3 linked regions of the Homo sapiens genome follow. The protein of the gene in region 3 interacts with the protein of the main gene of each other region in a pairwise test. Each region holds a gene or a part of one and is shown on either strand. Other genes may lie near its edges. The genes, in order: H3-3A, TRIB3 and CHAF1A.

Region 1 (3,552 bases), on a different chromosome or scaffold from region 3:
GGGAGGCGGAGGCTGCAGTAAGCCGAGATTGCACCACTGCACTCCAGCCTAGGTGACAGAGTGTGACTCGTCTCAAAAAAAAAAAAAAAAGGTACTTTCACATTTCTAGCTTCATCCTTTTTAGCCCTATCACTACTCTTCTACAAGTTTCCTTCATTCAAATTGAACTATTTTCACGTGTGTTTCTCCAGCATTTGTTATTAACAACTAAGTCTTACTTATCTACCCTTTAAGGCCCAGCTCAAGACTATTCCATGAAGGAGAAAATCGCATACTTGTCTCTTGCTCCTGTTGCCAGTGCAGGCAACCCTGAACTCCTAGTTCCTTGGCACTCACAATGACCTTGCATTATCAGCCATTTTTTGGTGCCCTTAAGTTACTTGATAACAGAAATCTCATTTAATACTCCAAATGCCTTGTCCTCAAGTAGATTTTCAATATTTGCTAGTTTTAAAAAATGTTTCTATTCTATGCAAGTAGTCCCTCGCATCTTACCTATTCCACAGGTATTAAAAGCAAAAGTCCTTAATATTCCGAGATTCGTTCTTAAGATATTCTAGAAGTGGGTAGAAATCCTGGAAAAAATGGCATATTGTAGCCTCCTTAGGGGCTCACAACGCATATCAGCTATTATATCAGGAAAGAAAACAGTTTAATTTTGCTTAACCTGGCACCTCGGGATTACAGAAAGCTAGAATGCTTTTGTAAAATGTGGTACAAGCTACTATGCAAGCAAACCATCAGGCACCATGGTTCTGGTGGCCTTTCAGAGTGGTATCACTTAGAACCACTCAGATGTGGCATGTGGTAGCTGGGGCTCTCACTGCTGTCTTAGAACCTGGCTACTAGTTTATAAGGATTGTGTCTGGTCAGCTCTGAGAGGAGACTGAACTCCTACGAGAGGATCTGACCATGACCCATACATTTCCAATTTTATTACAAGTAACCCAAAGTCCCTTAAAACATTAAGGCTGTAATGGGAATTAAAGACTGCCACACTAATTTATGACCTAATGAATTAATTTTGATTTAATGGCAAAGAAAAAAAAGAACTACAAGAAAGTATTAGTTTAGGACATTTTGAGTATATTCAACGTCTGCCTCTTTACCATTTCAAAGCAACACTGTCCACTTAACACAAGAATATTTGAGTTCAAGTTCTCAGACATTAAAAGCAAAGACTATATTTTAAGTAAGTCAATTATTGATTATCTATGGCAAACTGAGACTAATTTCTCCTCTACCATTCTCACTGGACTGCCTGCTATCCTTTAGTTGTAAAGTGTGTAATTCTAAGGCCAAAAACAAAGGACCTTTGGATTTCTACTTCAATTGCGATCTTCTATTATCCTATTCCATTAACAAATTCTCCCTCTGTTATCTTTTTTTTTTTTTTGAGACAAGAGTTTTGCTCTTGTTGCCCAGGCTGGAGTGCAATGGCGCCATCTCGGCTCACTGCAACCTCTGCTTTCCGGGTTTAAGCAATTCTCCTGCCTCAGCCTCCCTAGTAGCTGGGATTATAGGCGCCTGCCACCACGCCAAGCTAATTTTTTGTATTTTTAGTAGAGAAGGGGTTTCACACCATGTTGGCCACGCTGGTCTGGAACTCCTGACCTCAGGTGATCTACCCACCTCAGCCTCCCAAAGTGTTGGGATTACAGATGTGAGTCACGGCGCCCGGCCCACTCTCTGTATTTTTAAGATAACTAAAATATATGCATAAAAAAGCAAACAGAAAACACAAAAGCTTAACAAAGATCACTCTTTCCAATAAAGAGCTATCTAACACTAAGAGAACTGTGGACAGAAGAGGTGAACATTTTGCTTAAAACCAATACAACCACACTTAATGACAAATATGTAATAGTAACAATGGAAGTTTACATGTGAATAATTTTAGAAAGATGAGTCTTTTACCCAGATTGTTTAGTAAATTCAATTTAAAAGGCTACATTATTGACATTTAAGCTAAAAACGCTACACTTTTCAAGTACAGTATTGTTCTTTAAGCACAGTTCTAACTAGAAAATATTAGCAGCTTTGTACCAATGCTTACGAATCTTAGTAACATTTCTGTATTTAGTAATAAATAAGAACTGAAGATAATCGGCTATTAAAACAGAAAATAAAGTTTTAAGTAAAAACATGGAAGATTTTAGTAGTTGAAATTTCAGCAACTCACTGAGAATTTAATGGATGCCTACTCCTGGAATTCACCAATCAAATGAAGTTTAGATTAACCATAGAAACAGCTCGACCAATTACACTTCAGGGTGGAATCCACCTATCCTATCTTTCTCATACATAAAGCAAAAGCCCAGCACAGCAACAGCAGCCTTGAAAATCCTCCAATGGAATGTACTTAGATTCTGGATGCCCCCTCCCCACCCCCAGAATGATTCAGGTCTGCAATGGTGCCTAACAATCAGCATTTTTAACGACCCCCAACTGCATGCTTCTGATGGAGGTGGTAGCTTTACTGTATTCTGGGATACTTGCAACTAAAGAATCCAACCACACAATATAAAATAGGTTACTTAAGTGACTGATGTTAATGACGTCTACATACCTTTATCAAGTATCTTGTAGGAATTTCAAGTTTTGGTCTTAACTTAAACCACAAATATCTCAAATACATAAATATCTCTAGAACAGTATTTCTCTAAGTCCTGACATGCTAGAGATTAAGATTAAATTCAATATGCTCCACATGTAAGTGGCAATCCCTAATCCCCTTTAGGAAACCACAAGGCAAATCCTGGCCCCTTTACACGTCCAGTATCACCTTTAAGCACCGTTCCCCCAATCTTGCCAATCCAATCCTATCCTCCACTCACTGCTCCTTTTACGTCTTAATGCATAATTTTTTAATACTGCCTATTCCCATCCTAGGTATTAAGCTCTCTCTACCTATATGTTTCTTCAGGACCTGAAGAGACATTTCTTTTATTCTAGGCACTGTTGTTTGAAATTGTTACTACAAATATAGACCTCTAGTCTCAAGTTCTTCTTAATGTCCTGCAGCATCCATAAACCAAACCAGAGGATTTTCTTTAAATATTGTTTTTAGTGCAATGTTTCAAAATTTTAAATGGTATAATGGAATGTGCACTAAGCCTTGGAGTCAAATAGGTTCAAATTATGGTTTTGCCATTTTCTACGTGTATGACCTTGAGCAATTTAACCTTTCTGAAGTCTCAACAGTGAAGTAACAATATCAACTACCTGACAGGCTTGTGATTAAATGATATAAGCACATGCAACAATTTGGAACTGTTCTTGGTACACAACAGGAATACAAACTCTGAGTCTTCCCACCCACCATTTTACCTGCAAAGCACCGATAGCTGCGCTCTGGAAGCGCAGATCTGTTTTAAAGTCCTGAGCAATTTCTCGCACCAGACGCTGGAAGGGAAGTTTGCGAATCAGAAGTTCAGTGGACTTCTGATAACGTCTAATTTCACGGAGCGCCACAGTACCAGGCCTTTAAAAAATTAATAAAGAAACTGTTACCAAAAACATAACTAGCACAAAAAGGTAAGTGGGCAGCTT
Region 2 (3,650 bases), on a different chromosome or scaffold from region 3:
GGAGGCCAAGGCAGGCGGATTTCGAGACCAGCCTGGCCAACATGGCAAAACCCCATCTCTACTAAAAATACAAAAATTAGCCAAGTGTGGTGGTGTGTGCCTGTAATCCCAGCTGCTCAAGAGGCTGAGGCACGAGAATCACTTGAACCCGGGAGGTGGAGGTTGCAGTGAGCCGAGATCGTGCCACTGCACTCCAACCTGGGCAACAGAGCGAGACTCTGTCTCAAAAAAAAAAAAAAAAGAAAGAAAGAAAAAAAAGAAAAAGAAAATTAGACTTAGGCAAGCACCACAATAATAACTGCTATAGGCAAGATGGATGGCTGCTAAAATTAGTGGGTGAAAGTTGAGGAAAAACAGGATATTTATATGCCTAGCTTACCTCCCCCAAGGTATTTGTCAATTACAAAGGGTAAATTAGGACCTTACAGTAGAGAAACCTGGTAGGTCCTGCCCTAACCAAGTGATCAAGGTCACGACATAGGAATGACTATCAGCTCAAGTATCTCTTGATATGATGTGGAGAGGGGCCTATCGATTCTGTGTTGTTCTTGCCAAAAATACATAACTGCAATCTAACTGTGAGAAAACATCAATCAAATCCAAATTGAGGGACATACAAAGTAACTGATCAGTACTCTTCAAAAGTCTCAAGGTTATGGCCAGGAGCAGTGGCTCACGCCTATAATCCCAGGATTTTGGGAGGCTGAGGCAGGCAGATTGCTTGAGCTCAGGAGTCTGAGACCAGCCTGGGCAACATAGCAAGACCCCATCTCAATTAGCCAGGTGGGGTGGCACACACCTGTAGAACCAACTACTCAGGAGGCTGAGGTGGGAGGATCACTTGAGCCCGGGAGGTTGAGGCTGCAGTGAGCTGTGATCACACCACTGCACTCCAGCCTGGGTGACAGAGTGAGACCCTGTCTCAAAAAAAAAAAAGTGTCAAGGTCATGGGTCTTCAAAGACAGGGAAAGACTGAGGAACTGTCTCAGATTGGAAGAGACCAAGGAAACCACTGATGACTAAATTGGGATCCTCACTGGATCCTGCACAGCAAGGGGTGTTAGTGGGAAACTCGGGAAGTGGGAATCAATCTGTGGCTTAGTTAATAGTTTGGGTAATTGTACCATAGCTACGTCAGGTGTTAACATTGGAGAGCACTGGTTAAAGGATATGCAGAAACTCTTTGAACTATTTTTGTAGGTTTTCTAAAAGTCTAAAATTATTTCAAGATAAAAAGTTTTTTAAAATGCCATGGGGTCACACTCCTTTCTCCACAGAAAACTCCTGTGTAACTGGCAGCTTAGTGCACTCCCTGACACATCTTGACTGCCCCCAGGAATCTGGAGAGGGAACAGGAGGCGAGTCTCTCTGCCCTTCTCCCCAGAATTATCTTTTAAAAATTTTTCTTAGCGTCTAGGCTGGGTGCAGTACCTCACACCTGTAATCCCAGCACTTTGGGAGGCCGAGGCAGGCGGATCACCTAAGGTCAAGAGTTCAAGACCAGCCTGGCCAACATGGCAAAACCCCGTTTCTACTAAACATAGAAAAAATGAGCCAGGCATGGTGGCGCATGCCTGTAGTCCCAGCTATTCGGGAGGCTGAGGCAGGCGTATCACTTGAACCCAGGCAGCAGAGGTTGCAGTGAGCCAAGATCGCGCCATTGCATTCCAGCCTGGGTGACAGAGTGAGACTCTGTCTCAATTAAAAAAAAAAAAATTCTTAGCATCCCAACCTAGAGAAGGAAGATTCTTTTAACCAAAAAGTGCTAATTCTCAGTTTCACAGAAAACGTTCCCGTGTGGGGAACCTCAGACCCTATTTTGGCTGTGGTCTTGGAATCCTGAAAACACCCTAACAATCCAGCCCTTTTCCTTACCAACGGAGAAACTGAGGCTCAGAGACACTAGGTCACCCAAAGTCAGTTGGTAAGCCCAGCCAGGCCCCTGCCTCTCAAGCTCAGATTGAATTAAGACCCAGGCTCTGGAGTCAGATCTAGGTTCAAATCCCAGCTCTACCATTTATTCTGCTATGGGATCTTGGGCAAGTTACTTGAGCTCTCTGGGCCTCAGTTTCCTTGATCATATGGGGATAATAACAGTACCTGCCTCGTGTTTGTAAGGATGGAAGACCACGTTAGATAATGTGGCGATGCTTTCGTCACTGTCGGCTACTATGACTTTCACATCTCAGTGCTCCATCCCAGAATCCCAAGGGGCTCCCAAGAGGACTGAGTCAACTCTTTTTTTTTTTTTTGAGATGGAATCTCACTCTGTTGCCGAGGCTGGAGTGCAGTGGCGTGATCTTGGCTCACTGCAACTTCCGCCTCCCAGGTTCAAGCAGTTCTCCTGCCTCAGCCTTCAGAGTAGCTGGGATTACAGGTGTGCGCCACCACACTAGGCTAATTTTTGTATTTTTAGTAGAGACGGAGTTTCACCATGTTGGCCAGGCTGGTCTCGAACTCCTGACTTCAAGTGATTCACCCACCTCGGCCTCCCAAAGTGCTGGGATTAAAGGCGTGAGCCACTGCACCTGGCCTGAGTCAACTCTTCTCAGGGAACTAAACAGGGGCTGCTGGTTACTTCAGTTTCTCCCACTTCTTGCCTAAGTTACCTTGCCTTCCTGGGCCTCGGTTTCTCTCCATCATGGCCCACCCCCTGGGTGTGTCTGTGGCTGGGGTCTCTGAGACCACACTCACCTCTCACGGTCAGCGAAGACAAAGCGACACAGCTTGAGATCACGCAGGACCAGACCGTGCTGGTGACAGTGCGCCAGGGCGGTGGCCATCTGGCGGAAGAGCACGGCAGCCTCAGGCTCAGGGATACGGTGGCGGCTTCGCACCAGGCTGTGCATGTCCCCATGGGTCCGAGTGAAAAAGGCGTAGAGGAGCTGGGTACCAGCCAGGACCTCAGTGGGCCGAGCCACATGCTTGTGCGGGGGCAGCCGCGCATAGGGCTCCAGCACGGCCAGGGCTTCCTGGACGGGGTACACCTGTGGGCAGAGCATGGTGTTAGCACAGCTGGGGACTCCCGGGAGCTGAGGCTGGCATTGCAAACAGTCACAGCTGACCTATTAGACACTACCATGTGCTAGGCATCGCACCAAGCGCTTCACTGACCGAGTCACTCAGCCCTGACCATGGTCCTATAAGGTAGGATGACTTGCTCCATTTTACGGTTAACGAAGCTGAGAGGCCACACAGCCAGCAAACAGCACGGCTGAGATTTGCACGTATGCACTCCACTGTCTGTGCTTTTTTTTTTTTTTTTTTTTTTTGAGACGGAGTCTCGCTCTGTCACCCAGGCTGGAGCACACTGGCGCAATCTCAGCTCACTGCAAACTCCGCCTCCTGGATTCAAGTGATTCTCCCGCTTCAGCCCCCAGTGTAGCTGGGATTACAGGCATGTGCCACCGCACCTAGCTAATTTTTGTATTTTTAGTAGAGATGGGGTTTCATCATGTTGGCTAAGCTGGTCTCGAACTCCTGACCTCAGGTGATCCTCCCGCCTCAGCCTTCCAAAGGGCTGGGATTACAGGTGTGAGCCACTGCACCCGGCCTTTTGTCTGTGCTCTTAACTGCTACGCTATATGGCCTCAAACATCGGATAACTGAAAAGTAACAGGTCACCCAAACAGAAAAATAACCCACAAAGC
Region 3 (3,650 bases):
GTGAGACTCCATCTTAAAGAAACAAAAAAATGTAAAGCTGTGAACATCTGCTTTGCATGGCCTCCCGACAGACACGGTGAGCATCGGCAGAAAGCCCACTAGGTCACAGCAGCTGGGCAGTCAGGAGGAAATGGTGTGCAGCAGGCCCGCAGGAGGCAAGAGGGGGCTGTGGGGCCACGGTGCAGATGCGGACGGGATCCCATCCCCAGCAGCCACGTGGGCGAGTGTCACCAGATGAGATTTTTCGAGAGAAGCTGGAAGTCTGGATGTTGAGGTGCGTTCAGGTTTCAGACCACACAGCAGGTCAAACACCAGCTGTCAGTGAGTGAACACAGCTGGGCTGCATCCTTAGCCCCTCACTGTGGGACAGAGACTCAAACACAAGCCGTCTGTGAGTGAAGACAGCTGGGGCACATCCTTACCCCCTCACTGTGGGACAGGGACTCCCCAGGCTCCTCTTCTTCCCACTCCTCATCACTGTCCACCTCATAGTCCAGGAGCTTCTGAGAAAAGAAACACATGGGACTCACAACTGTCTTTGGGGCTGGAGGAAAGGGGCACAGTGAGGAGGTACGGGGACGGAGGCACTCTGGGGCTAGCTCACCGTGTCCTGGGCCCAGGGGTCTCGCGCGCGGATGAGTGCCGTCTTCTTATTCCAGGTACCCCAGTAGGCAGGCCGGTGGTTCTCACAGAACTGCAGGAGCTTCATCCTGCCAAACTTCCTCCTCTCGGGAACACCGTCGCCCTTCCCACGCTCCACGATGACGACATCACTGAGAAGGAAAACCCCAGGCTCAGGATCACGCTGCCTTACAGACCTGCTCACAAACCTCCCAGGAACCTCCCTGTGAAGCTGGCCTAACAATTCTAGAAAGATGGGCATTTGTTAAAAAGCAGCACTGCCTGTCCCCAAAGAAAGGTCAGGAACATGGACTGAAGGGACAGATGGAGGAGGGTGCAGCCTGCAGGGTGAGAGGGAGGACAGCTGCCCAGGTGCAGCCCCAGAGCATTTTTAGCAAGGGAGGTTCTGTGGAATGAGATTTGCAAGAGCGAGGTGTTGGGGGGTATCCTTCACTGGAGACCAGCAGGGAAATAAGATTCCTCCACGAGGAGCTGGGAAGACAGGGAGAGGAAGACTTCAGGAGCTTACAGGAAGGCCAGGTGGAGAGAGGCCTGAGCCAGCACCGAAGCCCAGGGCCCGAGGGCACTAGGAAGCAAGCAACAGAAGGACCCAGAGCTCCCACCCCGGGGACCCCAGGGTTCAGGATGCTGGCCTCCAGCATCACTAGTGGGTGAAGGCCGACCTCCTCAGGCTCTGACCTGTTAAAAATATCTGCATTCCGGGTGGAAACGTGCGTGGGTCCGGACCTCAGGGGCTGCCGGCCTTTGAGGTCTTTCAAGAAGGAGAACTCGCCGCTCTGCTGCTGGAGGAGCTGGTCCAGCTGACTGCAGAGGTCTGGATGGAAAGCGGTCCGACGCCGAGGGGCCAGGACCATGTGCTCTTTAATTTCAAAGGGGGCAAACTTCCCACAGGAGCCGGCCAGGGTCTGAAATCAAGAAGAGACCCGATGGGGTCTTCGAGCAATGGGAGAAAGGAGGCACCATGGACGCACACAGCAGGGTGCTGGTGGGATTCATCCAGGCTAAGGCCAAGGCACAGACTCAAAAGCCCAGGCACTGTGTGGGTCCACAGAGCCGAGTTTCCAGAGCTACAGGGCAGAGGGCAGATTGGCAGTCTCAAGGGCCGGCGGTGGGGGGACAGACTACAAGGGAGCTGTTTTGAGTGATGGAAATAGGGTTTATCTTCATTATGGTTAGCTGGCCCTGTCATTTGTCAACACAAATGTCCTGAAAAGAGTTTATTTTATTGGATGTAAATTATATCTCAACAAACCTCACTTAAAAAAAAAAAAAAAAAAGGCCGGGGGCAGTGGCTCATGCCTGTAATCCCACCACTTTGGGAGGCTGAGGAGGGCGGATCACCTGAGGTCAGGAGTTCGAGACCAGCCTGCCCAACATGGTGAAACCCCATCTCTACTAAAAACAAAAATTAGGCCAGGGGCAGTGGCTCATGCCTGTAATCCCACCATTTTGGGAGGCGGAGGAAGGCGGATCACCTGAGGTCAGGAGTTCGAGACCAGCCTGCCCAACATGGTGAAACCCCATCTCTACTAAAAACAAAAATTAGGCCAGGGGCAGTGGCTCATGCCTGTAATCCCACCACTTTGGGAGGCTGAGGAGGGCGGATCACCTGAGGTCAGGAGTTCGAGACCAGCCTGGCCAAGATGGTGAAACCCCGTCTCTACTAAAAATACAAAAATTAGGCCAGGCGCGGTGGCTCACGCCTGTAATTGTAGCGCTTTGGGAGGCCGAGGCGGGTGGATTGTCTGAGCTCAGGAGTTCGAGACCAGCCTGGGCAACACAGTGAAACCCGGTCTCTACTAAAATACAAAAAATTAGCCGGGCACGGTGGCATGCACCTGTAGTCCCAGCTACTTGGGAGCCTGAGGCAGGAGAATTGCTTGAACCTGGGAGGCAGAGGTTGCAGTGAGCTGAGATCGTGCCACTGCACTCCAGCCTGGGGGATAGAGCAAGACTCCATCTCAAAAACAAAACAAAACAAAACAAAAATTAGCTTGGCATGGTGGTGGGCACCTGTAGTCCCAGCTACTCAGGAGGCTGAGGCGGGAGAATCGTTTGGATCTGGGAGGCAGAGGTTGCAGTGAGCCCAGATCACGCCACTGTACTCTAGCCTGGGCCTGAGGCAGGAGAATTGCTTGAACCTGGGAGGCAGAGGTTGCAGTGAGCCGAGATCGTGCCACTGCACCACTCCAACCTGGGGGATAGAGCAAGACTCCATCTCAAAAACAAAACAAAACAAAACAAAACAAAAATTAGCTTGGCATGGTGGTGGGCACCTGTAGTCCCAGCTACTCAGGAGGCTGAGGCAGGAGAATCGTTTGGATCTGGGAGGCAGAGGTTGCAGTGAGCCCAGATCACGCCACTGTACTCTAGCCTGGGCAACAGAGCAAGACTCCTTCTCAAAAAAAAAAAAAAAAAAAAAAAAAAAAAAAGACAGGGTCTTTTTTTGAAAGATCACAACTCCTCTTTTTTTTTTCTGAGATGGAGTCTCGCTTCATTGCGCAGCCTGGAGTACAGTGGTGCAATCTCGGCTCACTGCAACCTCTGCCTCCTGGGTTGGGCGATTCTCCTGCCTCAGCCTCATGAGCAGCTGGGATTACAGACGCCTACCACCACGCCCGGCTAATTTTTGTATTTTTAGTATTTTTAGTAGAGACACCTTGTTGGCCAGGCTGGTCTCAAGCTCCTGACCTCAGATGATTCACCCGCCTTGGCCTCCCCAAATGCTGAGATTACAGGCATAAGCCACCGCACCTGGCCAAAAGGAGAAATTTCAGTATAATGAAAGACACTGTAGCTGGGCGTGGTGGCTCACACCTGTAATCCCAGCACTTTGGGAGGCCGAGGTAGGCGGATCACCTGAGGTCAGTAGTTCAAGACAAGCCTGACCAACATGGAAAAACCCCGTCTCTACTAAAAATACAAAATTAGCTGGGCGTGGCAGCACATGCCTGTAATCTCAGCTACTCGGGAGGCTGAGGCAAGAGAATCATTTGAACGCAGGAGGC

Evidence for each region.
Region 1: the proteins of CHAF1A (region 3) and H3-3A interact in binary tests that used the Homo sapiens proteins (3 or more experiments, as listed by UniProt).
Region 2: the proteins of CHAF1A (region 3) and TRIB3 interact in binary tests that used the Homo sapiens proteins (3 or more experiments, as listed by UniProt).

What each region holds. Positions count from the first base shown.
Region 1 is NC_000001.11:226,065,588-226,069,139, reverse strand, and holds part of H3-3A (histone H3.3), read right to left. Parts: intron 3,485-3,552; coding exon 3,331-3,484; intron 1-3,330. UniProt on the Homo sapiens protein: Variant histone H3 which replaces conventional H3 in a wide range of nucleosomes in active genes. Constitutes the predominant form of histone H3 in non-dividing cells and is incorporated into chromatin independently of DNA synthesis.
Region 2 is NC_000020.11:390,624-394,273, reverse strand, and holds part of TRIB3 (tribbles homolog 3), read right to left. Parts: intron 2,988-3,650; coding exon 2,695-2,987; intron 1-2,694. UniProt on the Homo sapiens protein: Inactive protein kinase which acts as a regulator of the integrated stress response (ISR), a process for adaptation to various stress. Inhibits the transcriptional activity of DDIT3/CHOP and is involved in DDIT3/CHOP-dependent cell death during ER stress.
Region 3 is NC_000019.10:4,426,561-4,430,210, reverse strand, and holds part of CHAF1A (chromatin assembly factor 1 subunit A), read right to left. Parts: intron 1,548-3,650; coding exon 1,321-1,547; intron 774-1,320; coding exon 605-773; intron 504-604; coding exon 423-503; intron 1-422. UniProt on the Homo sapiens protein: Acts as a component of the histone chaperone complex chromatin assembly factor 1 (CAF-1), which assembles histone octamers onto DNA during replication and repair.